7 linked regions of the Homo sapiens genome follow. The protein of the gene in region 5 interacts with the protein of the main gene of each other region in a biochemical or structural test. Each region holds a gene or a part of one and is shown on either strand. Other genes may lie near its edges. The genes, in order: LDB3, GOT1L1, CLDN8, SLC22A9, PDZK1, ABCA7 and FZD4.

Region 1 (3,500 bases), on a different chromosome or scaffold from region 5:
GGACAGAATAGAGTGAGTTGGAAGAGAGCCTAAATATCGTGCTCAAGTGAGAAACATCCACGCAAGTGCCTGCTTCAATGCCATGTTTTCAATGAGCATATTAACAGGGCTTCCTAAAAAGGGAAGCGACTACACTGTTTCCAACCACAGAATCTAAGCTGCCTTCTTTATCACCAAACAGCTTTAAGATGCTTACCTAACTCAAACTATCACTAGTATAAAGTAGTTTGAAGGCCCCTCTACTTCAATAAATACTTAAATAATAGCTAGATCAACTCAGCTCATACATTTTCAAAATATTGGCCAAAACAGCAAATGCATATATATCAGTGCATCTGTCCCTTCCAGCAGTTAACACAATTGTACAAACTCAGTGTGCTGCATTTAAAGGAACATTTGAAAAGGATGATGCAGACCTGAAGGTGGGAGGTCCTGCCTCCTCGTGTGTTCTTACTGAGGGTGGCAGAAAGTAAGTTTCCTCTTCCCCACCCAGAGTTTGGGCATGTGAGCCTATTCTGCCATCCTGTTTCAGACACTGTCTCTCTGTCTCTCTTCTTTTCCACAGGCCACCAAGCCTATTTGAGATGGAGGGTACTGGGGGAGACGTCATAAGTGAGCAGTCACAAGTTGGGGTGAAATTCATGCACACGACTGGACACTCATGCTAACGAACCCTTAAAGCTAAACAAAGGCCAAAGACAACCCAAAGCCTTTAAAAAAATCTCTCACACACCACAGAGCAAAACTGGAAAAACCCAACTCTACTTTCCCATCACAATTCAAAAAGGAGCTAAGCCTTCTGGGGATGTTGGATGTTTCAGACTGAGAGAGGGTGGCTGACAGGGCCATCTTTTCTCAGCTGTCTGCAACCTGAGCCAGAGCCCTTCCTGGAGCCCTGGCAATTGCCCAGTGGCTCCCAGAAGACATCTCTTTGGACGTCCGGGCTCCCAAGAAGGTTTTAAGTTTGTTCAAGGTCTGAAGTCTGATGCGCAGAGGTAGCTCCATGACGCTAGTAATGGAATAACACTTCCTTTTTTGGTGAGGAAAGCCCAATGGGTCTTAGCTAACAAGCTCTCAGCTATGACTCTAAAAATACCCTGCAGCGAGTGCTGTTTGGCACTTCAATTTGTTTGCCAGGGGAGCGCTTAAGAACTCCGCAGAATGCTTCAGATTCTCCACAGCTGCTCTAAGCTCTGTCCTCCTCTGGTGACCAAAGCAAGTGTATCGCTTTGGGAAAGCTGCTTGTTGCTTTTCACTTTTGAGTTCTTGGAATTCTGCTCTAAATGTCTGAAGTACAATTCCAGTCTTGGATTAATAACTAGCTTGGTTTTGAGTCTTCATTTGGCTCCTAGTCTGAACTATGCAAATGCACGATCTGTGTACAGAAGAAAAAACCTAAAATTATACTTCCAAAGGGCTCAGTCGCTTCCTCTCTCTCCCCATTCCCCTCAGAAGAAACATCAGCCTCCCGAATCCTTTGTTGCCAGCAGCAGGAGCAGCTCCGGGCCTCGTCAGCACAGGCGGCCTTGGCCGCCTACAAGTTGATGGTGTGTGCGTGCTTCTTGCACAGGGGTCTGTCCTTCTTGGAGTAGAACGGCTGCCCCTCCAGATTCACATGGCAGACCTGGAGCAGAGAACAGACCTGCGTGAGACCCACGTGGCACAGGGCATGAGCAGATTTCAATCACTTTTTTAAGAAAACGCCCTGGCCAGGCGTGGTGGCTCAGTCCTGTAATCCCAGCACTTTGGAAGGCCAAGGCAGGCAGATCACTTGAGGTCAGGAGTCCAAGACCAGCCTGGCCAACATGGCGAAACTCCATCTCTACTAAAAATACAAAAATTAGCCAGGGGCATGTTGCCATGTGCCTGTAATCCCAGCTACTCGGGAGGTTGAGGCAGAAGAATCTCTTGAACCCGGGAGACAGAGGTTGCAGTGAGCTGTGATTGTGCCACTGCACTCCAGCCTGGGCAACATAGCAAGACTGTCTAAAGCAAACAAACAAACAAACAAACAGCCTTGCCCCATGCATTCTAGAGAAAAGGCAACAGCCTATTTCTCCCACTATGAATTCTTAATGACGGAAGCAGAGTACATGAGTTGGACTATATAAAAACTAAGATTCCTGAAGAACAGAATAAAATCAAATGAAATTAATTAAATTTAATGGAATAGAGAAAATATACACTATGAAGCTGACCAATTCATGCTATCTAAAATAGCATGAATAGAGTCAATACAAGTTCACAAGTCAATATACCACAGAGAGGATTCACGTCTAAAGAAAATCATTAGTAAACTAACAAACACATCAGAGAAGATTGTACTCACTAATAATTAAAGAAAAAGCAAATTAAAACTCCCCTGACTCCAGGCGCAGTAGCTGATGCCTGTAATCCCTACACTTTGGAAGGCCAAGGCAGGAGGATCGTTTGAGGCCAGGTGTTTGAGACCAGCCTGGGCAACATAGTGAGCCTCTGTCTCTACCAAAAAAAAAAAAAAAGAAAAAGAAAGAAAGAAAAGAAAATTAGTTAAAAAAATTACAAGAAAAACTGCCCTGAGATACCACTAGACACATATTAATCTAGCAAGACAAATAAAACAAAAAAACCTCAATGGCCTGTCACCTTTAACCTAATATGCCTGTAGCCAAAAAGCTTAAAAAAAAAAAAAGTATTCAATCAAAAATCAGCAATGCCAAAAAGGAACAAGGCCTACTCGTGCACTGCTAGAGACATGTGAGTGAGCTCAGTGTTCCATAGGGAATCTGGCCATGTTGAACAAGAACCATTGAGATGTGACTACCCTGTAACCCAGTAATGCCACGCTAGAGAATTTTATCCTGCAGAAGCAACTCTGCAGAACAACAAAACAACCTGTGCTCAACTAGAAACTGAAAACTAGTAAAATTTCTCTCAATAGGAAGATGATTCAGTAAATTTTCATGGTGTATTTTTCCAATGGAATGCCACCATTTAAAAAGAGAGATGGGCCAGGCATGGTGGCTCACGCCTGCAATCCCAGCATTTTGGAAGGCCGAGGCAGGAGGACCACGAGATCAGGAGTTTGAGATCAGCCTGACCAACATGGTGAAACCTTGTCTCTACTAAAAATACAAAAATTAGCCGGGTGTGGTGGTGCGCACTGGTAATCCCAGCTACTCAGGAGGCTGAGGCAGGAGAATCACTTGAACCCGGAAGACGGAGGTTTCAGTGAGCTGAGATCATGCCACTGTACCCAAGCCTGGGCGACAGAGCGAGATTCCGTCTCAAAAAAAAAAAAAAAAAGGTAGATATGGAAAAGTATGCAGAGAAATATACAAAAAAACAAAAGAGATGAAATTCTTTTTTTTTTTTTTGAGATGGAGTCTCACTCTGTCACCCAGGCTGGAGTGCAGTGGCGCGATCTCAGCTCACTGCAACCTCTGCCTCCCGGGTTCAAGCAATTCTCCTGCCTCAGCCTCCCTAGTAGCTGGGATTACAGGCGCCCACCACCATACTCA
Region 2 (4,054 bases), on a different chromosome or scaffold from region 5:
GTCCCAGACAGAGTATTCATAAACTGTAAAGCCCATGTCCTGGAAGACGAGTCCATGCAGTTCTGTGGGAACACAGCCCCCCACTAGCTGGTACATGGGAAACAGAGAGACGGAGACAGAGGTACTGGAGTGTGGGGCTGAGAGTCACTGGCTGAAGGTGGGACATTAACAGGAAAAGGACATAAATAGCTTGGCTTGTCTGCCATTTTGCTCATGACAGAGAATGAGGGATAACAGTGAAGATGGCAAATGGGGTGAGGATTAGGAACAAGGGACGGGGATTGCTGTTCCCCTCATCTTGGGTAAGACTAACCTTTTTGAGAAGAGATGATGTAAACTATACGAGCATCCTTATGCCAAGCTCTGAGAAACTGGACGCCAAGCTGGAAGGCACCACTGTCACCAACAGTGTGTACACCCCCTACCTGCCAGCAAGACATAGACACAAATAGGCCAGGTGTGGTGGCTCACACCTGTAATTCCAGCACTTTGGGAGGCTGGGGTGGGTGGATCACTCGAGGTCATGGCCAACATGTTGAAACCCCGTATCTACTAAAAATACAAAAATTAGCCGGATGTGGTGTTGGGCATGTGTAATCCCCGCTACTCAAGAGGCTGAGGCAGGAGAATCACTTGAACCCGGAAGGCGGAAGTTGCAGTGAGCGGAGATCAGGCCACTGCACTCCAGTCTGGGTGACAGAGTGAGACTCCGTCTCAAAAAAATAATAAGTAAATAAACATTAAAAAATAAAAAGAAATAGACAGAAATAACACTCTAAAACAGTAATGGAGGCGAGACGCAGTAGCTCATGCCTGTAATCCCAGCACTTTGGGAGGACGAGGCAGGGAATCCCCTGAGGCCAGGAGTTTGAGACCAGCCTGGCCAACATGGTGAAACCCTGTCTCTACAAAAAATACAAAAATTAGCTGGGCGTGATGGCACATGCCTGTGATTCCAGCTACTCAGGAGGATGCAGCACCAGAATTGCTTGAACCTGGGAGGTGGAGGTTGCAGTGAGCTGAGATGGCACCACTGCACTCTAGCCTGGGTGACAGAGTGAGACTCTGTCTCAAAAAATATATATAATAGGTTAAAAAATAAAACAGTAATGGGAATACTAACACCACCTCCAATTCAGATCATTCCTGTCTTGAAAGAGCTTTCAAATCAGCAGTGTGAGCAGGTGGGAATACCACTGGACTGAGATTCCGATCCTGACTCGATGGCTAAGGACTTGTGGACTCTCTGAGCCTCAGGTATCTCTTTTATCAATACCAGGGGGCCCTCCGAGGTCCCCTTCGGGTTTAAGGTTGTGCAGACCCAGATCGCCACTCTCTGTGTCTAAATGAGCCAGGGGAGGGCCCACCTTCTCACCCTGTTCTCCACAATGGCTTGGCTGTGCTTTCCAAAGAGGAGTGCTAGAGAGGCCTGGATGAATGATTTCAGGCCCATGGTGGGCAAGTACTCATAATTCAGGGAGGGATCCTGTGAAATCTGTAGTCGAGTCTTCTGCACCACGAGAGAAACCCAGGGATGGCCTTCATTTGTCATGCAGACTGTGAGGAAAACCACAGAGGGAGCTCCAGATGCCTGGTTTGGGCCCCCAGGGCTGAGCTCTGCAGACAGCCTGCAAACAAATCTCTCCTGGACTCCATGGGGCTGTGGGAAGGTGCCTGTGAAAATACAACTTTCCCTTTTCTTTTCTCCTTGATGAAAAGAATATGCTGTTAGTGAATGTGTATTATTTTTGTCTTTTTAAAAAAGACAACTGAAACCTATGCCATTTTAAAGGTTAAAAATTATACAAGCCCAGGATTGGTGGCTCAGGCCTGTAATCCCAGCACTTCGGGAGGCTAAGGTGGGTGGATCACTTGAGTTCAGGAGTTCAAGATCAGCCTGGGCAACATGATGAAACCCTGTCTCTACAAAAAAATACAAAACAGCCAGACATGGTGACCAGCGCCTGTAGTCCCAGCTACTCAGGAGGCTGAGGCAAGAGGATGGTTTGAGCCCAGGAGGCAAAGGTGGCAGTGAGCTGAGATCTTGCCACTGCACTTCAGCCTGGGCAACAGAGTGAGGCCCTGTCTCAAGAAAAAAAAAAAAAAAATATATATATATATATATATATATATATATATATATATATATGCAAAATGAGAGTTATAGGTAGATGAAGCTAAATAAAGGTAACCCTGACTTTCACAGTGGTGAGCCCCAGTTGCATAGCAGAAAGCTCAATCTGGAGAACCATTCTTGGTTCAAGAACAGGAAGAGAAAGAGAAAGAGAGAGAGAGGAGGTAAGAATCTGAAGAAGTGTGGGATGGCCATGCAGGCCCCCAAGCATAGAGTTGTGGAAGAGGACATAGCTCTCACCAAATCCCTAGAAGCCCCCAGAGAAGGGCAGAGAGCATGGAATGACCTGGGACCTTATCTGCACTTTTCCCCACTGGGTAATTCTGTTAACAAGAAAAGATCTCTCCACCCACAGAAGCTTGGGCTGCACCCCTCCCCCTGCAGCAGGGAACACTGTCCTCCTAGAGGCAGTTACCATCACTTAAGTCTTATACTTCAGAACTGCTAGGCATCTACCTCTATAGGCTAAGAATATCTTGTTCGGGTAATCATCTTGTTTGTAGGTCTTTAACAAGCTGCCCTCTAGCTTGTGGGCGAGGGGCACATCCATGAACACTGAAAGGGTGGGCATAACTGAAACGAAACTGGAGCCAAGACTATGTGTCTCTGCTCCTGTGTTCCGCTTCTGCCCAGAAGTCTTCCTCCAAGGCTGGGCCGGGCAGTCCTGCCTCTTCCTGGAACCTTGGCAGCCCCAGTGCAGAGGCGCTGGACAACGGGTTGCCAGGGCAACAGAACCTCATGATCTTTGTGGTGGCGATCCACAGGGGCCACAGGAACATTCCAGGGTACTTGAGGAGAATCCCCTCAGACAGCGGGCAGGGCAGGATAACAATCTCCGGAATTCCCAAGCCCGTTTCCCTCACTCAATGCCTTCTCTTCTCTAGCCCCAGGTGGCTCAGTCCAAAGTAACAAGCCCACTCCTTAGATGACAGGGCAAGGATAATGGGAGATTACTTAACAGATACAATGTACATTGTTGGGGTTATGGATACCCTAAAAGCCCTGACTTCACCACTATGCGATGTATGCATCTAACAAAATTACACTTGTACTTCACACATTTATACAAATTAAAAAAAAAAAAAAGAAAGAAAGACATAGGGCAAGGCAGGCAGCCAATAAGCCAGATAGGGCTTCTCCTGCAGAAGCAAAAACCCCAGATCACACACCAATGCAAGTCGAGGCATTGATTTCCATTTTGCAAAGTGCCCCAGATTTCAAAAGGAATAAAAAGCAAACACTGTTTTCTTCCACAGTTGTTTTAATAAAGAATCCTATTATTAGAATATAATTGGCAACTCACTAAGCCAGTCCTATTTCTCTCAGTTATCTAGAGCCAAGACTTCTACATATGTTTGTTAAGTTTCTTTTTCTTTCTTTTTTTGGTTTTTTTTTTTTTTGAGATGGAGTCTCACTTTGTCGATAGTCTCGAACTCCTTGCCTCAGGTGATCTGCCTGCCTTGGCCTCCCAAACTGCTGGGATTACAGGCATGAGCCACCACACCTGGCCATTTGTTAAGTTTCAATGACAGCCAACTAGTAAGTATAGACAGCAGAGGCCAAGGGGAGAAAAGAGCCAGCCTCTATAGAGTCAGTCTGCATATTGCTTGCTTTCTTTTCCTTTTGATGTTTAATGACTCTCTCTTTTTTTTTTTTTTTTTTTTTGAGACAGAGTCTCGCTCTTGCTGCCCACATTGGAGTGCAGTGGTGTGATCTCGGCTCACTGCAACCTCTGCTTCCCAGGTTCAAGAGATTCTCCTGCCTCAGCCTCCCGAGTAGCTGGGATTACAGGCATGCGCCACCACACCCAACTAATTTTGTATTTTTAGTAGAGAGGGGGATTTCTCCATGTTGATCAGGCTGGTCTCAAACTCCAGACCTCAGGTGATCTGCCCACCTGGGCCTCCCAAAGTGCTGGGA
Region 3 (3,804 bases), on a different chromosome or scaffold from region 5:
ATGAATTGTTCTGAGATAGCCTCATCTTTGAATTGAACTAATAACATTATCAGTCTCATAAAAGATTTAATAACAATTCATATAAGCAGTAGAGGTCCTAGCATGTAATACATGCCCCCAGAACATTAGACAATATTATTTATTATTTCTCAGAAGTAGAAATATATATTTAGCTACAGAAAATTTTTCAAACCTGGCTGTTATATACATAATATTTATAACATATAGATTTGCTTGAATTTATAGTACTATCTTAAATTATAAATATATTATCTGCATTGAATATTGGTATAGGGATCCAATGATTATAAGGTATATTGTTGTTAAATAACATAAATAACATAGAGTACTTTATATTTTCAAAAATTAATGCACTGTTTGTCTTTACAAGGCAAATCTTGACATTCTTTCTCAATTTGGAGAATAAAAAATTATCAGGCTTTTCAACATTCTTCTACAAGTTAATAAAACAGAAACAAAAGGAGACTTGTGAAAGAATGTCAAATAATTAGAAAAATGTACAATTTATTAATATAAATGTATAAAGCAAATAGAACACATTCATTTAAGCTAGACAGACGTCGACACAAACTTTCAAATTGGATTGTCAGTTTCATCAAATTTGGAATAAACAGAAAAATACAGTATTTACAGATTTTAGTAAAACTAAACAGAAATGGTACAAGAAGGAAATTTATTTTTCACAGAACAAAAATGACAATTTTGACTCAGGTACCCACATAGGAGCAGGTGAAGTTCTCAAAGGACAACTTTTTTTGTTGTTGTTTTTTTGGTAAGCAAATGAAAACCAAGACATATTTTTCTGCTCTTTTATTTATATTGATGAAACCTCAAAGTCTGTACTCAAATACTTATTAAAATATATCCATACATATATGATTTCTTGTCAAAATGCATCATTCTTCTTCAAATACAAAAACAAAAATATTTTCACTTTCCTAAAACCATCACTTTTTCTTAGATCACACTTTTATCTTTCTTCTGAGTATAGCCCTGGAAAAGCAGTTTGAATGCAAAGCCCCTTGACAAAATATCTGCTTTTTAAAAATGTTAATTTAATACACAAGAAAAAAAAAGCCTCTGGGAGAAGAGGATAAAGAAGTTAGGATTTCTAACTCCTAGGCTAAAAAACAGCATATCAGAAAGCCATTCAATTTCCTTTACAATGCTGATTAAAGCCTTCATTTTAATCTTCATTATAAATGGAGGACATTAATCCCTAAGCTGTTTTTAAACAATTAATAGTAACCTTCTTCAACCCTATCCATGATTTCCCTGAAAAGCAATAGTTGAGTTCTATTTATTCAGTGTAATGGACTGGCATTTCATTTTAAATAAAACCATATAAGCATGTCTCTATGTGAGATATAAATGTTACACTCATCTATGTACATAATGCTATGTCGTGGAGAAATTACAGTAGTAAAATAATGCAGTCTTTAGCAATGTCATTTTGAAGTAAATGATAAAAAGAGTAGATGCTTGAACCACCTTAGAAAACAAATTACTATACTTTCTAGAACAATCAAAGCATTGGGTTTAATATCTCATTCTGCTGAAATAGCTTATAGAATCATAAATAGCTGATGCACAGTTCCTGTAATTAAGATTAGGCAGTTAAGAACAGTAAATCAAAGTTTCTTTGGGGTCCATTTTGAGAAAGTAATATAGATTTTTGTCATTTGCATGGCTTTATAGTAAAGTTAAAAAAACATACACAACTACACATACTGACTTCTGGAGTAGACGCTCGGTGACTTCTTTCCGGTGTGATAACTTTTTTGGGTTGTGCGATGGGAAGGTATCGAGTATCTGTAGCTACTGCTCTTTTCGTTGCAACAAAAAACGCAGCAGAACAGAGCTCCTCCAACAATCAGCACCAGTGCCGTGGTCCATCCTAAGTAGAGAGCTTCTCCAAGCTCACGTTTTTGGGCAACATTCACTATTGAGTTATAGAAATCTCTGATGATGGCATTGGCAACCCAGCTCACAGGGATGAGCACCACCATGCCCGTGATGATGAAGATGATTCCAGCCGTCAGCAGAATGTGAGCCTTCACCTTCTCATTGTCCCCCGTGCACCTGGTGCATTTCATGCCAAGGATGGCCATCATGAAAGCCAAGAAGGACATCACGGAAGCAGCACACATCAGTCCTCTGGCTGCCTGTAGGTCCGGAGAAAGAGCCAGCAGGGAATCATAGATTTTGCACTGCATCCTGATGTTAGCCTGCCTCACGCAATTCATCCACAGTCCTTCCCAGAAGTTTTCAAAAACCACGATGTTGTTTTCAATGAAGGCCGACACTCTCCACTGAGGCATGACAGTGACAGCCACTGTGCCCACCATTCCAACACCACCAAGAAACAGCCCAGCGATTTCTAAGGCATGGGTTGCCATTATCCTCTGGGATGAGTTTTAGCCAGCTGGACTCCGGAACTGCTACTTCTGCTTTGAAGCAGGGTTCTCTGTGCCACAGAAGAGAACAGTTTTTCCTGTAGTAATGAACTCGGAACCCAGTGGTTTTTCAAATAAGAGCTGCTTTGCTACTTCTGGCCAGATAGTATCCAGTGCTGGCTGGCTGAGATGGCCCTGCTATTGGCTGCAACAGGTAAACTTACAAATCAGGTGTGGCAACTTTCTCAGCCAATAAAAGGTGGATGGTAATCCAGGTGTGTCTAAACCAACACTTGGGTACTTGGAACAGCTAGACCTGCACATAAACATTCTTTATACTTCTCGGTCTTCCAAGAAGACAGCAGTATGTTTACCTGTAGGCATAGTTATAAGTGGTTGCATAAGCATCAAGAAATGAGCCGATCCCTTGTAATGTGAAAGGTGCACCTTGTACAGGCAATTCTGAAACTCTTAATAAGAGCTGCTGGGACCAAGGGATAAAATAAATTATCTGCCGAAGAATTCTGCAACGCTGTTGAAATGCCAAAGTGAAACGAGAGTAGGGGATTGAAAGATTGCTTTTACCTGGGAAGCCACATTCTTTGGGACACATGTGATCCAAGTGATTGATTTAATTTTTCTACAACTTCAAAGCAAGCTCTACTGTGGTGAAATCAGGGAACAGATCATGCCAGAGGACAAAATAAGCTAAAGTAATTAAATACACAAGGCTGTCCTTCTCCTTGGCACTGAAAACATATTGGAGTTCTTTAAGCCAGAAAAAATACTCATTGACACTTTTCTGATAATCTTCACTTATAAAAACATTTTTTGCCAAAATAAAAATCACCAGATGATTATCTTATGTATCCAGCACTATAGCATTAAAATAAGCTTATGAGCTTATTTTGTGGTGTTATTCTTGCTGCTTTGAATTCCTGGGCTGAAGGAACTAGAATTCTGAAGATGACACAAGACCCTTGGGCCTATACAAATGGCTGATATTTCAAAATAAGATATTTACAAGACAAGGGAACTATATTTACCAAACTGTATTATATTAGGTATTAACCAAATATGTTTTCCTACCTTTTAATATTATGTCTGCAGTAGGACATAGAAACCCCTAAACGCAAGACAATTTGAACTTTCTTCTCAAAATAATGATGCTCTAACAGTAGTGCTATACTAAGCATAAATGTTTATCTGAGAAAATTCGACTAGCAATTTTCTTCTGGAGATCACCTTAAGCTCTCTGTCTGATCTTTCCAAAGTTTAAGCTGCCACTTCATTTTCTTTTCTTCTTAACATCATAAAAAATGATTTTCTCTTTACAGTTTTACTTTCTCTCTGTTTCATTGGACTACCTTAAATCCAAATATGGGAG
Region 4 (3,500 bases), on a different chromosome or scaffold from region 5:
ACTCCAGCCTGGGTGACAGAGTGAGACTCCATCTCAAAAACAAAACAAAACAAAACAAAAACAACTGTTTGTTCATGTGCTTTGGCCATTTTTTATGGGCTGTCTGTTCTTTTTTAATTTGTTCATGTGCCTTATAGATTGTGAATATTAGGCCTTTGTTGGATGAACAGTTTGCAAATATTTTCTCCCATTCTATAGGTTTTCTGTTTACACTCTTCTTTATTTACTCTGTTGAAAACTTTTGTGGAAAAGCTCTTTAGTTTATTTGGTCCCATTTGTCAACTTTTGTTTTTGTGGCAATTGCTTTTGGAGTCTTTGTCATGAGACCTTTGTCAGGGCCTTTGTCCAGAATGGTATCTTCTATGTTTTCTTCTAGGATTTTTATAGTTTTAGGTCTTAAACTTAAGTCTTTATCTTGACTTGAGTTTTGTATATGGTGAAAGGAAGGGGTTCAGTTTCAATCTTCTGCATATGGATAGTCAGTTATCACACCATTGACTGAATAGGGAATCCTTTCCCCATTGCTTGTTTTTGTCGACTTCATTGATGAACAGATGGTTGTAGAGGTATGGCATTATTTCTCAGTGCTCTAGCCTATTCTATTGGTCTACCTTTCTGTCTTTGTACCAGTACCATGCTGTTTTGGTTACTGTGTTCTCGTAGTATGGTTCAAAGTCAGATAGTGTGATGCCTACAGCTTTGTTCATTTTGCTTTGGATTGCTTTGGTTATTCAAACTCTTTTTTTTTGTTCCATATGAATTTTAGAATAGTTTTCTCTAATTCTATAAAAAATGTCTTTGGTAGTTTGATAGGAACAGGATTCAGTCTGTAAATTGCTTTGGGTGTATGGCCATTTAAACAATATTGATTCTTCATATCCATGAGCATGGAATGTTTTTGCATTTGTTTGTGGTCATCTCTGCTTTCTTTCATCATTGCTTTGTAGTTCTCATTGTAGAACTCTTGCCTCCCTAGCTAGCTATATTCTTAGGTATTTTATTATTTTGTGTTTATTGCGAATGAGATTACATTCTTGATTTGGCTCTCAGCTTTAACGATGTCAGCGTATAGAAATGCTACTGATTTTTGTACATTGATTTTGTATCCTGAAACTTTGCTAAAATTGTTTACCAGATCAAGGAGCTTTTGGGCTACAACTACAGGGATTTGTATGTATAAGATCATATTGTATGTGAAGAGAGATATTTTGACTTCCTCTCTTCCTATTTTGTGGCCTTTTCTTTCTTTTGTCTAATTACTCTGGCTAGGACTTTGAGTACTATGCTTAATAGAATTGGTGAGTGTGGACATCCTTGTCTTGCCTGGTTCTCAAGGGGACTGCTTCCAGGTTTTGTGTATTCAGTATGATCTTGGCTTGGGTTTGTCAATAGATAGCTCTCATTATTTTGAGGTATGCTCCTTCGATGCCTAGTTTGTTGAGGGTTTGTAATATGAACGATGTTGAATTTTATTAAAAGCCTTTTCTCTGTCTATTGGGTTGATAATGTGTTTTTTGTTTTTAGTCTGGTTTTTCTTTTTTTAAAATTTTTTTCTCTGCCAGGTTTTGGTATTAGAATGAATCTAGTCTTGTAGAATGAGTTAGGAGTCTCCCTGCCTCAATTTTCTGGAATAATTTCAGTAGGATTGGTACAAGCTCTTCTTTACATGTCTGGTAGAATTTAGCTGTGAATCCATGTGGCCCAGGGATTTTTCTAGTTGACTGGCTTTTTATTACTGATTCAGTTTGGAAACTTGTTATTGGTTTATACAGGGTTTCAATTTATTTCTGATTCAATATTGGGAGTTTGAATGTTTACAAGAATTATCTATTTCTTCCAGGTTTTCTAGTTTCTGCGCATAGAGGCGTTTGTAATAGTCTCTGAGTGTTTTTTGTATTTCTGTGTTGTTGGTGGTAATGTCACCTTTGTCATTTCTAATTGCATTTATTTGAATCCGCTCTCTTTTTTTCTTTATTAGTTTAAGAAAGTCTATCCATCTAATGTGTTCTTTCAAATTACCAATCTTTGGTTTTGTTGATATGTATCTTTTTTACATCTCAATTTCACTCAGTTCAGCTTTGAATTGGTTACTTCTTCTTTTCTGCTAGCTTTGGGTTTTGTTTGCTCTTCTTTTTCTAGTTCCAATAGGTTTGAGGTTAGGTTGTTAATTTGAGATCTCTCAAACTTTGTGATGTGGGGATTTAGTGCTATAAGTTTCCTTCTTAACATGTGTTTAGCTGTGTCCCAGAGATTCTGGTATGTTATATCTTTGTTTTCACTAGTTTGAAAGGTTTTCTTGATTTCTGCCTTAATTTCTTTATTTATCCGGAAGTCATTCAAGAGAAGGTTGTTTAATTTCCATGTAATTTTATGATTTTGGGAGATCTTCTTCATATTGATCTCTCTTTTATTGTGTTGTGGTCCAGGAGTGTGGTTGGTTTACTTTCTTTCTTTCTTTCTTTTTGAATTTGCTGAGGATTGTTTTATGGCTGATGTGTGGTCAATTTGAGAGCATGTGTCATGTGCAGAGGAGAATAACGTATATTCTGCTGTTGTTGGGTGGAGTGTTCCTTAGATATCTGTTAGGTCCATTTGGTCAAGTGTTGAGTTTAGTTCCTGAACATCTTTGTTAGTTTTCTGTGTCTATAATCTGTCTAACACTGCCAGTGGGGTGTTGAATTCTCCAACTATCATTGTATGATTTATCTAAGTCTCTTTGTAGATTTCTAAGAACTCGTTGTATGAATCTTCGTGCTCCAGTGTTGGGTGCATATATATTTAAGATAGTTAAATCTTATTGAATTGAACCCTGGATCATTATGTAATTCTCCTTTTGCCTTTTTTGATCACTGTTGGTTTAACATCTGTTTTATCTGAAATTAGAATTGCATCCCTTGCTCTTTTTTTGTTTTCCATTTGCTTGTTAGATTTTTCTTTATCCTTTCACTTTGAGCCTATAGGTGTCACTGCATGTGAGTGTCTCTGGAAGTCAGTATACAATTGGGTGTATTTTTTTTTTTAATCCAACTTGTCACTCTGTGTCTTTTAAGTGTGATGTTTTACATTTAAGGTTAATATTAATATGTAAGGATATTAAGAGGCTTGCTCTTAATCCTCTCCTTTTTCAATAAAATGGGAGAAAATGTATTTTTATTGTTCCAAGTAGCATTCTTTCCTTTCCCATATCATTTCCAATATTTGGATTTAAATCTGTCCATTGATATTCTCTGTCATAGCAAAAGCTTCATTCAGGTAGTTACCTTGACTTATTCTGTTATTCATGATCTAGTATCATTTGTGCATACCACATTTTAAGATTAATACTTTATATATGTGTATAACATGGATAATATTTAACTTAAAGATCCATGACAACATTTATCTTTAAGATCTGGGGTGGATTAAAATGAGAAAGACTTCTCACAGGCATTTCCACTTAGTCATGCTTTAGGAACTTATAGTAAGTAAGTATAATGAAACTCCAGACAAATAGGGATTTG
Region 5 (4,011 bases):
GACAAGGAAATAGAAGCTTAGAGAGCCTGATCTAGAGTGCAGGTTTCCAATCCCAGTGCTCATTTTCTTAATCACTTAGCCATGATACCCATCAGGCAAAGAGATTAAGGAAATCTGGGCAGTCCCTCATGAAGGACCAAAGAAAGAAGTTGCTGAGATCTTGAGGAAAACACGTCTAGCTCCAGCTTGCCACTCTCATTGCATCCCTATGCAACGAATGCAAGAATCATTTCACTAAGAAGTGACCAGAGAAACCCATTCCCATATGATTAGACCCTGGACTTCAGATGCCCTGAGAGAGGATTGGAGTCCTTCAACCTCCTTTCCTGAGGAACACCTCATCAAAGCCATCGCCATCTGCATCTATTCTTCTAGCTCCTTCCCTGCCACACTAATTCCATTTATGCAAATATGTTCTATGCCAGGTAGTGCTCAAGGGGCTGGTAATACAGCAAGTAACACAAATGACAAGATCCCTGCAGTCTTGAAGCTTAACATCTGGCAAAGGTGACAAGTAAAAGAGATGATTTTTTTTTTCTCGAGATGGAGTCTCACTTTGTCACCCAGGCTAGGGTGCAATGGCACAATCTTGGCTCACTGCAACCTCCACCTCCCAGGTTCAAGCAATTCTCCTGCCTCAGCCTCCCAAGTAGCTAATACTACAGACAGGCAGTACCACGCCCGGCTAATTTTTGTATTTTTAGTAGAGATGGGGTTTCACCATGTTGGCCAAGCTGGTCTTGAACTCCTGACCTCAGGTGATCCACCTGCCTCAGCCTCCCAAAGTGCTGGGATTACAGATGTGAGCCACTGCACCCAGCCCAAATGAGATGATTTCTGATGGTACACGCTGTGAATGATAGAGATACTGGTGGCATGGAGGTGGGAGGCTGATTTAGAAAGTCCTTCCTGGGAGGTGACATTTTAATTCATACCCCAATGACAAGGAGCTACCCTTCAAGGCTCCAGGATCTACCTTATACTTGGCCAACTGAAAAAGACATTAATGATGATCTGGTCTCAACTTCTTATTTGTAAGTGAGCAAACAGAGGCTCAATGAGATTAAAAGACTAGGACAAGGTTTCCCAAGTGACTGCAATTTGTTTCTTCTTACTATTCTACAGAGACTTTCGATATACACATTTGAAATCTAGGCATCTTACATCGTGTTTTTAACATATTCATGGTTTTTTGTTTTTTAGACAGGATCTCAGTCTGTCACCCAGGCTGGAGTGCAGTGATGCAATCACGGCTCACTGTAGCCTCGACCCCCTGGGCTCAAGCAACCCTTCCATTTCAGCCTCCCAAGTAGCTGACACCACAGACACATGCCACCATGCAGGATTAATTTATTATTATTTTTTGTAGAGACGGGGGTCTCACTTCATTGCCCAGGCTGGTCTCGAACTCCTGGCCTCAAGTGATCCTCCCGCTTGGGCATCCCAAAGTGCTGGGATTACAGGCATGAGCCACCATGCAGGACCACACATTTGTACTTATAATTTTATTTTCAGTACACTCTTGGGGAAAAGATGACAGACCTTCACTTGATCAATAATGAAATTGAGGCTCCAGTTGGCTAAGTAGTTTGTCTAATGGCCTGTCACTAGCAACTGAATCAAAACTCTGATGATTTGTATTCCAGTCCTATGTTCTTTCCCCTGGGGGAGAAGTAGCTGCCTAGCCAGTGGTCTATGAATATAAGACATCATTACCAGCAACTTCACACCCTATGGTGCAGAGAACATACAAAAGTCAAAGATAAGCACAAGTTACTATCATAACACAGAAATTCAAAGACCCTGAGTAATTTGCTGCAGACTTCAGATGACTGGACAATCATGGCCTGAGGCAGTCCCTGCTACCCCCTCTTGCCTTCTAGATACAAGACTGAAAGCTGCCCTGGTGACACATTGCAGAGATTTTAGTAAATAAAGAAGAATGTGTTTCTCAGAGCCAACGCCCAAATCTTCATAGCTGGACCCAACCCAGACCAGGAGTCTTCATAGCGAGTGAACCCTTAGGTAAGTGTCATACTTAAGTCTCATGAGTCTTCTGCTTAAGAAATAAACTACTAGTGGTTCCCAAACCTACCTGCACTGATCAGAATGATTCTGGGAGAGTTTTCAAATAAAGATCTTTCAATTCACACAAGGCCTGGAGACTTAGAAATGCCAAAGGTGAGAGCCTGGGGAATGTATGTTTTAAAATTCAGCCAGCCTGGAAATCCACTGGTTTTTCTCATGTCTTAGTGCTGCAGTGTGATACAGAGAGGAAAGATGCCTGCTTTTATTATCTAGTGGGCAAGCTAAGTTAGGCTGCATCCTTTAAAGGCTGCTTCCAGAAGAGTCTTCTCTGCTACCCAAGGCCCCTGTATCAGTAGGAAGGTCCCGGGCATATCCGCCTGGTTACCTGTGAAGTCAGTTGTCTCACTCCCTTTGGCTGCACATCAAACCCCCACACAACCCCGGGAAGGCTTTTTCTGAGGTCGGTTTACCAATTTCTTTGTGAAGCAGACCCTAGCCTACAAAGGTGAGGGGCATCTCCAGCAGAAAGAATCTCAGAGCGTGGATCATCTCTCACCCCCAACCACCGCCAAAGGGGCCTGGCTGCCTCCCCATGGGACTCTTCTCTGCCCTAGACAGCCAGCTACTGGCTTGGAAAAAGAAAAAGGGAAAAGGAAAAGAAAGAAGGTAGTTCAGGCCCCGGTGGCCAGCACCCTCAAGGAGGACACGAGCAGTTCTTACCTGGAGATGGAAGAGGAGCTGCTCTGTTCGTTCACTCAGGAATTCTGTCTCTGCAGGTGAGCATTAAGCTTGCAACTCACTGGACTTTGAACAAAGATTGATTTAAAAGCTAATGTATTTAACAGGGACATGTGGTCTGAATTCAAGTGACCTCTGTCCTGCTTCCTGCCAGCTGGCTGGGCCCTGAGCTGGAAAATCTGACAAACCTCAGCAAACCAAAAGCTCTGGCCCACCTGCCTGGCCCTGCGGGGAGGCCGCTGCTCGCCAGCCACTCCCAGAGAACAAGGAGGGGAGAGGGGGTGAAGGACAGCCAGGGAGGAGGTGCCTCCGCTTTCCTTGGTACTCTCCCTTTGGCAGATACCTTGGTTACACCCAACCAACCCCCAATCCTGTTAGGATCCTCCAGTCCCCCATCCTGGGGTCAGGGCCGAGGCTCATACAGGAGTATCCTCAATCACTGAGGCCTCCCCAAGGAGCAGTAGCCTATAAAACTCCCACCCACGAGGCCAGTAAGCCCCAGGAAATGGGGCCAAGCACTCAGGGCACCCATCCTGCTTCCCTCTGCCCTGGATTCTCACTTGTGTGCTCCCTAGGAGTTTAGCAAGCAAAGCCCTAGAGCAAGCAAAGCCCTTGTTCTTGTGTCCCAGGCTTCCTTCTTCTTATCCACTCTCTCCCCTCTCTTTTTTTCTTCTCTTTCTCACCTGATGGTGCTCTTTCTATTCTCCAGCCTAGCGATAATTGTCTTCCCCTTCACACACTCAGAGCCTCTCGGGCAAGCCCAGCAGGGTAGGTGGAAGGCATTTTTACAAACCCCTCCATCCTGCTGCCTTGCTGCCCGAGCAGTAGGCTGGTGCCCGTGTGCTCAGCCGCTAGCCCTAGCCATGATCAGCAGCTGATCCCTATCAGCAGCACCCACACAGACAATTCTATCACTGGCCTTCTCACTGACCTGAATCCTCAGCCCACAATGCAAATCAGGGCAAGAGATTGCTCCCGGCACTGAGGCAAAGCAAACCACAGGCCGAGGACTGGGTGACCTCACCCCTCTTCCACCCACACTGGAAGAGCCATTTGTCTTTGCTGGGCCTTGGCTTGGCCCCCAACAAAGACATGACCTGAGCCCATGGATAAACGGTTTAAAATGACATTGAGCAGCTTCCTCATACCAGCTTATCTTCCTCCACCTCGGGGCTAAGCCCTCCTGGCCTCCTCTATATCTTTCAAAGCAGAAGGTAGAATGGGAAAATCTGGATTTAGGATCAG
Region 6 (3,500 bases), on a different chromosome or scaffold from region 5:
TTCATCCTTCAAAACACCACCTCCTCCAGGAAGCCCTCCTCCTGGCCCCACCTCACCACCACCCAGGCCTCACACCTCCTCGAGGCTGGTGTCGGAGATCCCGTAGCCAGTGAGCCTCAGCTCCGCCAGCCGCGTGTCTAGCTCTCGGAAGAGTGTGGCGAAGCTGCCGTCATGGGCACCCGTGTAGGGCAGCACCAGCACCAGCTCGTGTGGCAGCTCCTCCACCAGCCGTGCCCCGGGCACCCAGTGCTGTACCAGGGCCAGCAGCTGAGGAGTGCCTGTGTGGACAAAGGGGTGCTTCAGGGAGCCCCGGCTCACGCCCCACCCCAGTCTCCCTGGGGAAGAGGCATTGGTGACCTGTGAGGGGACTGTCCCGGCAGACAGAGATCAGGGTTAAGAACGTAGGCCAGGTGCGGCCGGGCGCAGTGGCTCACGCCTGTAATCCCAGCACTTTGAGGGTTGAAGCAGGCAGATCACCTGAGGTCAGGAGTTTGAGACCAGCCTGACCAACATGGTGAAACCCCATTTCTACCAAAAATGCAAAAATTAGCCAGGCATGGTGGAACCCACCTGTAATCCCAGTTACTCGAGAGGCTGAGGGAGGAGAAATGCTTGAACCCAGGAGGCAGAGGTTGCAGTGAGCTGAGATCACACCACTGCACTACAGCCTGGGCGACAGAGCAAGACTCAGAAACAAACAAAAAGAGATCTTGAGGGCAGTGCTGGACCTAGTGTTGGAGGTCAGGGGTAGGTTTGTCTCTGGGCTCAGCCCTGGTTGGGTTAAAGGTGGGGTCAGTGTTCAAGTTAGTCTCATGGTTCCGGCTCAGCCCAGGGATGGGGGCATCATCTCAGGTTCTCAAGTGCTCTCCTCCTCCTCTCCTTCTCCTCCCCCTCCTCTCCCTCCTCCTCCTCTCCCTCCTACTCCTCCCCCTTCTCCTCCCCCTCCTCTTCCTCCTACTTCTCCCCCTTCTCCTCCCCCTTTCCCTCCCCCTCCTCCTCCCCCTCCTATTCCTCCCCTTCTGCTCCCCTCCTACTCCTCCCCTTCTTCTCCCCCTCCTCCTCTCCCTTCCCCTCCTCCTCCCCCCTTCTCCTCCCCCTCCTCCTCTCCCTCCCCCTCCTCCTCTCCCTCCTACTCCTCCCCTTCGCCTCCCCTTCCACCTCTTACTCCTCCCCCTCCTCCTCCCCCTCCTCCTCCGCCTCAACCTCCTCTGCCGCTTCCTCCCCCTCCTCCTCCTCTTCCCCCTCCCCCTCCTCCTCCTCAAGTTAAGGCACAGCCACCCCACTGCCCACCCGCCTTGGGTCTCCCACCCCGGCCCTCACCGACTCTGCTGCCCTGGCTGCCATTCTTCTTTTCCTGCCTGGTGTCCACACTGCCCTCCATGTCAGTGTCAGCCTGCGGGCAGAGAGGCACCAAGTGGCTTGGCCTTCAGGGCTGAACAGAGTCCCGGGGGTCAGGGGTCAGGAGAAGGCCGGTCCCCACCTTCTCATTGGTGGTCAGGGGCAGGCGGGCCTTCACCAGCGTCAGGTAGTAGCCGGAGCCCAGGTGACGGCGCAGGAAGAGTGGGGAGCCACAGCAGCACAAGCGGCCACCTGCCACCACGGCCACACGGTCTCCCAGCAGCTCTGCCTCATCCAGGTGGTGGGTGGAGAGGATCAGCGTGCGACCTAGGCACGGGGGACCAACCCACAACTACCATCAGGCCGCCGCGTCTTTGCCCGAGCTGGGGCCTCTGCCAGGAGTTGTCTGCCCCATGAAGCAAACTCCTATTCATCCCTCAAAACCTCATCCCCAGAACCTCCTTGTTGGAAACCTTTTCTGGCCCTTCAGGCAGAATCCAGGGGAACCTCTGTCTATCCCCAACTCTTACTGTCTCGGTATTTGAGCAGTAGCCCCTAAATGCCATAGCAACAAGTGGGGTCCACATGTAGCAAACTCCTACTCATTCCTCAAAACCCCATCCCCAGCACTTCCTTGTCAGAAGCCTTTTCTGGCCCCTCGAGCAGAATCCCCAGCTCTTACCTTCTCGGTATTTGAGCAGCAGCTCCCAAATACCGCGGCGGGAAGCAGGATCCACGCCAGCCGTAGGCTCGTCCAGGATAACAACTTGGGAGCCGCCCACAAAGGCAATGGCCACGGACAGCTTCCGTTGCATCCCACCTGGTAGAGATGGGGAAGGGACCTCAGTGTGTCACACCCAGCCTTGGGCAAGGTTGCCTACCCACGTGGACCTCAGTACCCGGCTTCCCCCTGCCTTCAGGATGAATCCCCAGGCCCCTCCCTGTGAGGTGACCTCCCTTGGGGATGGGCTCACCAGAGAGGTGGCGAGTCTGCACACTCTGCTTGGAGACCAGCCCCACATCCTGCAGCAGACGGTCCTGCTCGGGGCCCACTACAGCGGCACTCAGACCCTTCAGCCGCCCATAGAACCAGACGTGCTCGTCCACGGTCAGCCTGCGGCCAGTGCACAGAGCAGAGTGACCCACATGGCAGGCAGAGTCCCAGAGGGCGTCCAGTCCCTTCCCACCGCTGCACTCTGGGCCTGCCGAGACGCACATGTCAAACAGCACGTTGTACTGAGGACAGACGCCCAGGTGGGGCCGGATGGCGGCCATGCTGGAGCGGACGTCGTGGCCCAGGATGAAGGCAGAGCCACCACTGGGTGGGAAGAGGCCACTCAAGATGGACCTGTGGATAGAGGGGTCTCAGAGTAGCCCCCTTCACAGAGTGCACTGGCAGTTACAGAGCTTCTATTTTTAATTTCTGTTTTTAAAAAATTTTTAATTATTTATTATTATTATTATTATTATTATTATTATTATTATTTTTGAGACGGAGTTTCACTCTGTTGCCCAGGCTGGAGTGCAGCGGCACGATCTCGGCTCACTGCAAGCTCCACCTCCCGGGTTCACGCCATTCTCCTGCCTCAGCCTCCCGAGTAGCTGGGACTACAGGCGCCCGCCACCATGTCCGGCTAATTTTTTTGCATTTTTAGTAGAGACGGGGTTTCACTGTTTCACCATGTTAGCCAGGATGATCTCAATCTCCTGACCTCGTGATCCACCCGCCTCGGCCCCCCAAAGTGCTGGGATTGCAGGCCTGAGCCACCACGCCTGGCCACAGAGCACCTATTAAATGCTACATCCAAAACCCTGTGATAGCCTTATTTTTATTTATTTGTTTATTTTTATTTTTTTGTGACAGAGTCTCACTCTGTTGCCCAGGCTGGAGTGCAACGGCACAGTCTCGGCTCACTGCAACCTCCGCCTCCAGGGTTCAAGCAGTTCTCCTGCCTCAGCCTCCTGAGTAGCTGGGATTACAGGTGCACGCCACCATCACACCCGGCTAATTTTTGTATTTTTAGTAGAGATGGTTTTGCCATATTGGCCAGGCTGTGTCTCAAACTCTGACCTCAGGCAATCCTCCCACCTCGGCTTGCCCAAGTGCTGGGATTACAGGCGTGAGCCACCACTCCCGCCCTATTTATTTTGAGACAGGGTCT
Region 7 (3,500 bases), on a different chromosome or scaffold from region 5:
CTCTGGCCCAGGCAGGGGAAGGAAGACCAGGCGGTAGGGGACTGGTCTTGCTGTTAGAGTATAGAGGTTTGTAATGCAGTTTTCTTCATAATGTGTCAGTGATTGTGTGACCAAGGCAGCATCTAGCAGAAAGCCAGGCATGGAGTAGGTGATCGATACTTGTCAATGACTAAATAATAACAATAAAAGAGCACTTGGGTGAATCTGGGCACCTGATTTCTGAGTTTTGAGTTCTGGAGCTAGTGTTTTGACAATGCTTTGGGTTTTGACATGCCTTTTCCACAAATCTCTTGCCTTTTCAGGGCAAAGTGTATTTGATCAGAAGTGGCCATTTGGATTAGTAGCCTTAGCAATGCTACAGGGTTATAGGCCTCTCCTTTCACATTCCAGACAATGGAGAGTGTTTATGGTTTCAGGAAAAGAACTTTGTGGCTGAGGGGTCAGTTACCAGTGACCTTCAATCAACTCCATCACTTCTTAAATCGGTATTTGTTAAAAAAATCAGTTATTTTATTTATTGAGTGCCGACTGTAGTAAAGCCCTGAAATAGATAATCTCTGTTCTTCTAACTGATCTAGGATGGGGACGCACCCAGGTCTGCTGAACTTTACTGTTCCTCTGGGAAAGGAGCAGGGACCTCTGGAATTCCCATCTGTTTCACTGTCTCCATTCCATAAATCTCTTCCTGTGTGAGCCACCACACCCAGCCTGGGTCTCTCTACTTTTAACACATCTCTCATCCCTTTCCCAGGATTCCTTCCAAGTCAGTTACAGGTGGTTTTAACAGAAAGCATCAGCTCTGCTTCGTGACAGTCTCTGGAGAAATCCCTTAGGAAGACTATGAGAGTAGGCCACAAGGACATGGGCCCACACATCTGCTTTGGCTTTGCCGGCAATTCAGGGCTTGGGGTATTCCATGTGACTTGTATAGGTATATTTGAGGACAGCATCTTGCTAGAGAAAAGGTGAGGGTTGTTTTTCTTTCTCTGAAACCTACAGTAAATGGGTATGATTGTAGCTTCCTCAGAAATCCCTTGGCCTCCAGAGATTAAACATGGTGCAATGGCACCTCTGTCCAACCTCCTTTCTGGTAGATTCCTTTCTCCTGCTTCATATAGGCCAAACCTCAGGGCAAGGGAACATGGGGGTAGAGTGGTGCTGGCCAGAACCATCTGCTTGAGCTACTTGGTTGATTCATATCCTCTTTCCTTTATGGAGACCCATTTCCTGATCTCTGAGACTGTTGCTGAACTGGCAACTTACTTGGGCCTGAAACTGGAGAAGGGGTGACATTTTTTTAATTTCAGAGATGCTTTCTGATTTTCCTCTCCCAGGTCACTGTCTCACCTGCACTCTCCAAACTCAGGTTCCGGGAAGCTTGTGTGTCTAGATACTGAATTGAGATTCTGTTCAGCACCTTTTAGCTCTATACTCTCTGGCTCCCCTCATCCTCATGGTCACTGAATTAAATGCTTATTGTATTGAGAACCAAGATGGGACCTGAGGACACAAAGATGAGCTCAACAGTCTCAGCCCTAGAGGAATAGACTCAGGGATTTCACCAGGTCGGTGCAGTATTTGATTTCTGGTGAGGTGACCACAGCTGCAGTTAGGGAAGGGAGCCATTGAGCACAGACTTTGGAAGGAACCTTTTTTTTGTTGTTTGTTTGTTTGTTTGTTTGTTTGTTTGTTTGAGACAGGGTCTTGCTCTGTCACCCAGGCTGGGGCGCAATGGCACGATCTTGGCTCACTGCAACCTCTGCCTCCTGGGTTCAAGTGATTCTCCTGCCACAGCCTCCTGAGGAGCTGGGACTACAGGTGCGTGCTACCACGCCCAGCTACTTCTGTATTTTTAGTAGAGACGGGGTTTCACTGTGTTGGCCAGGCTGGTCTCGAACTCCTGACCTCATGATCTGCCCGCCTCAGCCTCCCAAAGTGCTGGGATTACAAGTGTGAGCCACCACACCTGGCCTGGAAGGAACCTCTTAAAATCAGTTTACGTCTTGTATTTTGTTCTGTGATGGAGGACACTGGAGAGAGTTGCTATTCCAGTCAATCATGTCGAGTCACTGGACTCTGAAAATCCTATTGGTTCCTTTATTTTATTTGAGTTTAGAGTTCCCTTCTGGGTTTGTATTATGTCTGGCAAATGACCTGGGTTATCACTTTTCCTCCAGGGTTAGATCATAGATCTTGGAAACTCCTTAGAGAGCATTTTGCTCCTACCAAGGATCAGATACTGGAGCCCCACATAATAGATTTCATTTCACTCTAGCCTACATAGAGCTTTCTGTTGCTGTCTCTTGCCATGCACTTGTGCGGTGATTACACACTTGACAGTACCAGGAGACAAATGACTTACAGATCCCCCGACATGCCTCTTCCCCTTGGCAAGCTCAGTTGCCCTGATAGTAGCATGTTTCTGTTTCTGATGTACCTTTTTTCTCTTCTTCTTTGCATCAGCCAATTCCCAGAATTTCCCCAGGCAATTTGTAGAGGACCTTTTTGGGGTCCTATATGAGCCATGTCCTCAAAGCTTTTAAACCTCCTTGCTCTCCTACAATATTCAGTACATGACCACTGTCATCCTAGAAGGCTTCTGAAAAGAGGGGCAAGAGCCACTCTGCGCCACAAAGGTTGGGTCCATCTTCTCTCCGAGGTTGTGAAAGTTTTCAAATTGTACTAATAGGCTGGGGCCCTGACTTGGCTGTGGGCTTTGGGAGGGGTAAGCTGCTTTCTAGATCTCTCCCAGTGAGGCATGGAGGTGTTTCTGAATTTTGTCTACCTCACAGGGATGTTGTGAGGCTTGAAAAGGTCAAAAAATGATGGCCCCTTGAGCTCTTTGTAAGAAAGGTAGATGAAATATCGGATGTAATCTGAAAAAAAGATAAAATGTGACTTCCCCTGCTCTGTGCAGCAGTCGGGCTGGATGCTCTGTGGCCTTTCTTGGGTCCTCATGCCACCCCACAGCTCCAGGAACCTTGAAGCCAATCTGGGGGACTTTCAGATGTTTGACAAAGAGGTACCAGGCAAACTTCCTGCTACACATGCCCTGAATGAATTGCTAAATTTCAAAGGAAATGGACCCTGCTTTTAAGGATGTACAAAAGTATGTCTGCATCGATGTCTGTACTGTAAATTTCTAATTTATCACTGTACAAAGAAAACCCCTTGCTATTTAATTTTGTATTAAAGGAAAATAAAGTTTTGTTTGTTAGGTTGTGTGTGACTTGGCATATTTCTGAAAGTATATGACAGCCACTAGGAAGCATATACACCCAGCAGTGAGAAATAGAGGATTCAGTTTGTAGGGCAGATTGGGAACTGCTTTCTGAGGGCCTCTTTCTTTTTTGCTGGGGCTCTTTTTCCCCTGTGGGATTTCTCCTGCGTCAGCAAACCCCCACAGTCTAAGGTCAACAGAATTGATTGCTAATATGGTCATCAGTAACACTCAAGTAGGTCACATGATGCTTTGGATATAACTATAGTTCTCAAGTTGT

Evidence for each region.
Region 1: the proteins of PDZK1 (region 5) and LDB3 interact in a test that uses a peptide from one of them, tested with the Homo sapiens proteins (one large-scale study listed by IntAct).
Region 2: the proteins of PDZK1 (region 5) and GOT1L1 interact in a test that uses a peptide from one of them, tested with the Homo sapiens proteins (one large-scale study listed by IntAct).
Region 3: the proteins of PDZK1 (region 5) and CLDN8 interact in a test that uses a peptide from one of them, tested with the Homo sapiens proteins (one large-scale study listed by IntAct).
Region 4: the proteins of PDZK1 (region 5) and SLC22A9 interact in a test that uses a peptide from one of them, tested with the Homo sapiens proteins (one large-scale study listed by IntAct).
Region 6: the proteins of PDZK1 (region 5) and ABCA7 interact in a test that uses a peptide from one of them, tested with the Homo sapiens proteins (one large-scale study listed by IntAct).
Region 7: the proteins of PDZK1 (region 5) and FZD4 interact in a test that uses a peptide from one of them, tested with the Homo sapiens proteins (one large-scale study listed by IntAct).

The regions. Positions count from the first base shown.
Region 1 is NC_000010.11:86,731,011-86,734,510, reverse strand, and holds part of LDB3 (LIM domain-binding protein 3), read right to left. Parts: intron 1,625-3,500; coding exon 1,535-1,624; 3' UTR 1-1,534. UniProt on the Homo sapiens protein: May function as an adapter in striated muscle to couple protein kinase C-mediated signaling via its LIM domains to the cytoskeleton.
Region 2 is NC_000008.11:37,937,325-37,941,378, forward strand, and holds the start of GOT1L1 (putative aspartate aminotransferase, cytoplasmic 2), read right to left. Parts: upstream 2,801-4,054; 5' UTR 2,706-2,800; coding exon 2,591-2,705; intron 1,558-2,590; coding exon 1,376-1,557; intron 426-1,375; coding exon 314-425; intron 63-313; coding exon 1-62.
Region 3 is NC_000021.9:30,213,506-30,217,309, forward strand, and holds CLDN8 (claudin-8), read right to left. Parts: upstream 2,593-3,804; 5' UTR 2,421-2,592; coding exon 1,743-2,420; 3' UTR 501-1,742; downstream 1-500.
Region 4 is NC_000011.10:63,376,285-63,379,784, reverse strand, and holds part of SLC22A9 (organic anion transporter 7), read right to left. Parts: intron 1-3,500. UniProt on the Homo sapiens protein: Sodium-independent organic anion transporter, exhibits high specificity for sulfated conjugates of xenobiotics and steroid hormones such as estrone 3-sulfate (E1S) and dehydroepiandrosterone sulfate (DHEAS).
Region 5 is NC_000001.11:145,704,569-145,708,579, forward strand, and holds the start of PDZK1 (Na(+)/H(+) exchange regulatory cofactor NHE-RF3), read right to left. Parts: upstream 2,801-4,011; 5' UTR 2,749-2,800; intron 2,256-2,748; exon of another isoform or gene 2,096-2,255; intron 1-2,095. UniProt on the Homo sapiens protein: A scaffold protein that connects plasma membrane proteins and regulatory components, regulating their surface expression in epithelial cells apical domains.
Region 6 is NC_000019.10:1,050,107-1,053,606, reverse strand, and holds part of ABCA7 (phospholipid-transporting ATPase ABCA7), read right to left. Parts: intron 2,687-3,500; coding exon 2,555-2,686; intron 2,453-2,554; coding exon 2,313-2,452; intron 2,159-2,312; coding exon 2,021-2,158; intron 1,666-2,020; coding exon 1,481-1,665; intron 1,394-1,480; coding exon 1,321-1,393; intron 279-1,320; coding exon 76-278; intron 1-75. UniProt on the Homo sapiens protein: Catalyzes the translocation of specific phospholipids from the cytoplasmic to the extracellular/lumenal leaflet of membrane coupled to the hydrolysis of ATP. Transports preferentially phosphatidylserine over phosphatidylcholine.
Region 7 is NC_000011.10:86,945,396-86,948,895, reverse strand, and holds the end of FZD4 (frizzled-4 precursor), read left to right. Parts: 3' UTR 1-3,217; downstream 3,218-3,500. UniProt on the Homo sapiens protein: Receptor for Wnt proteins.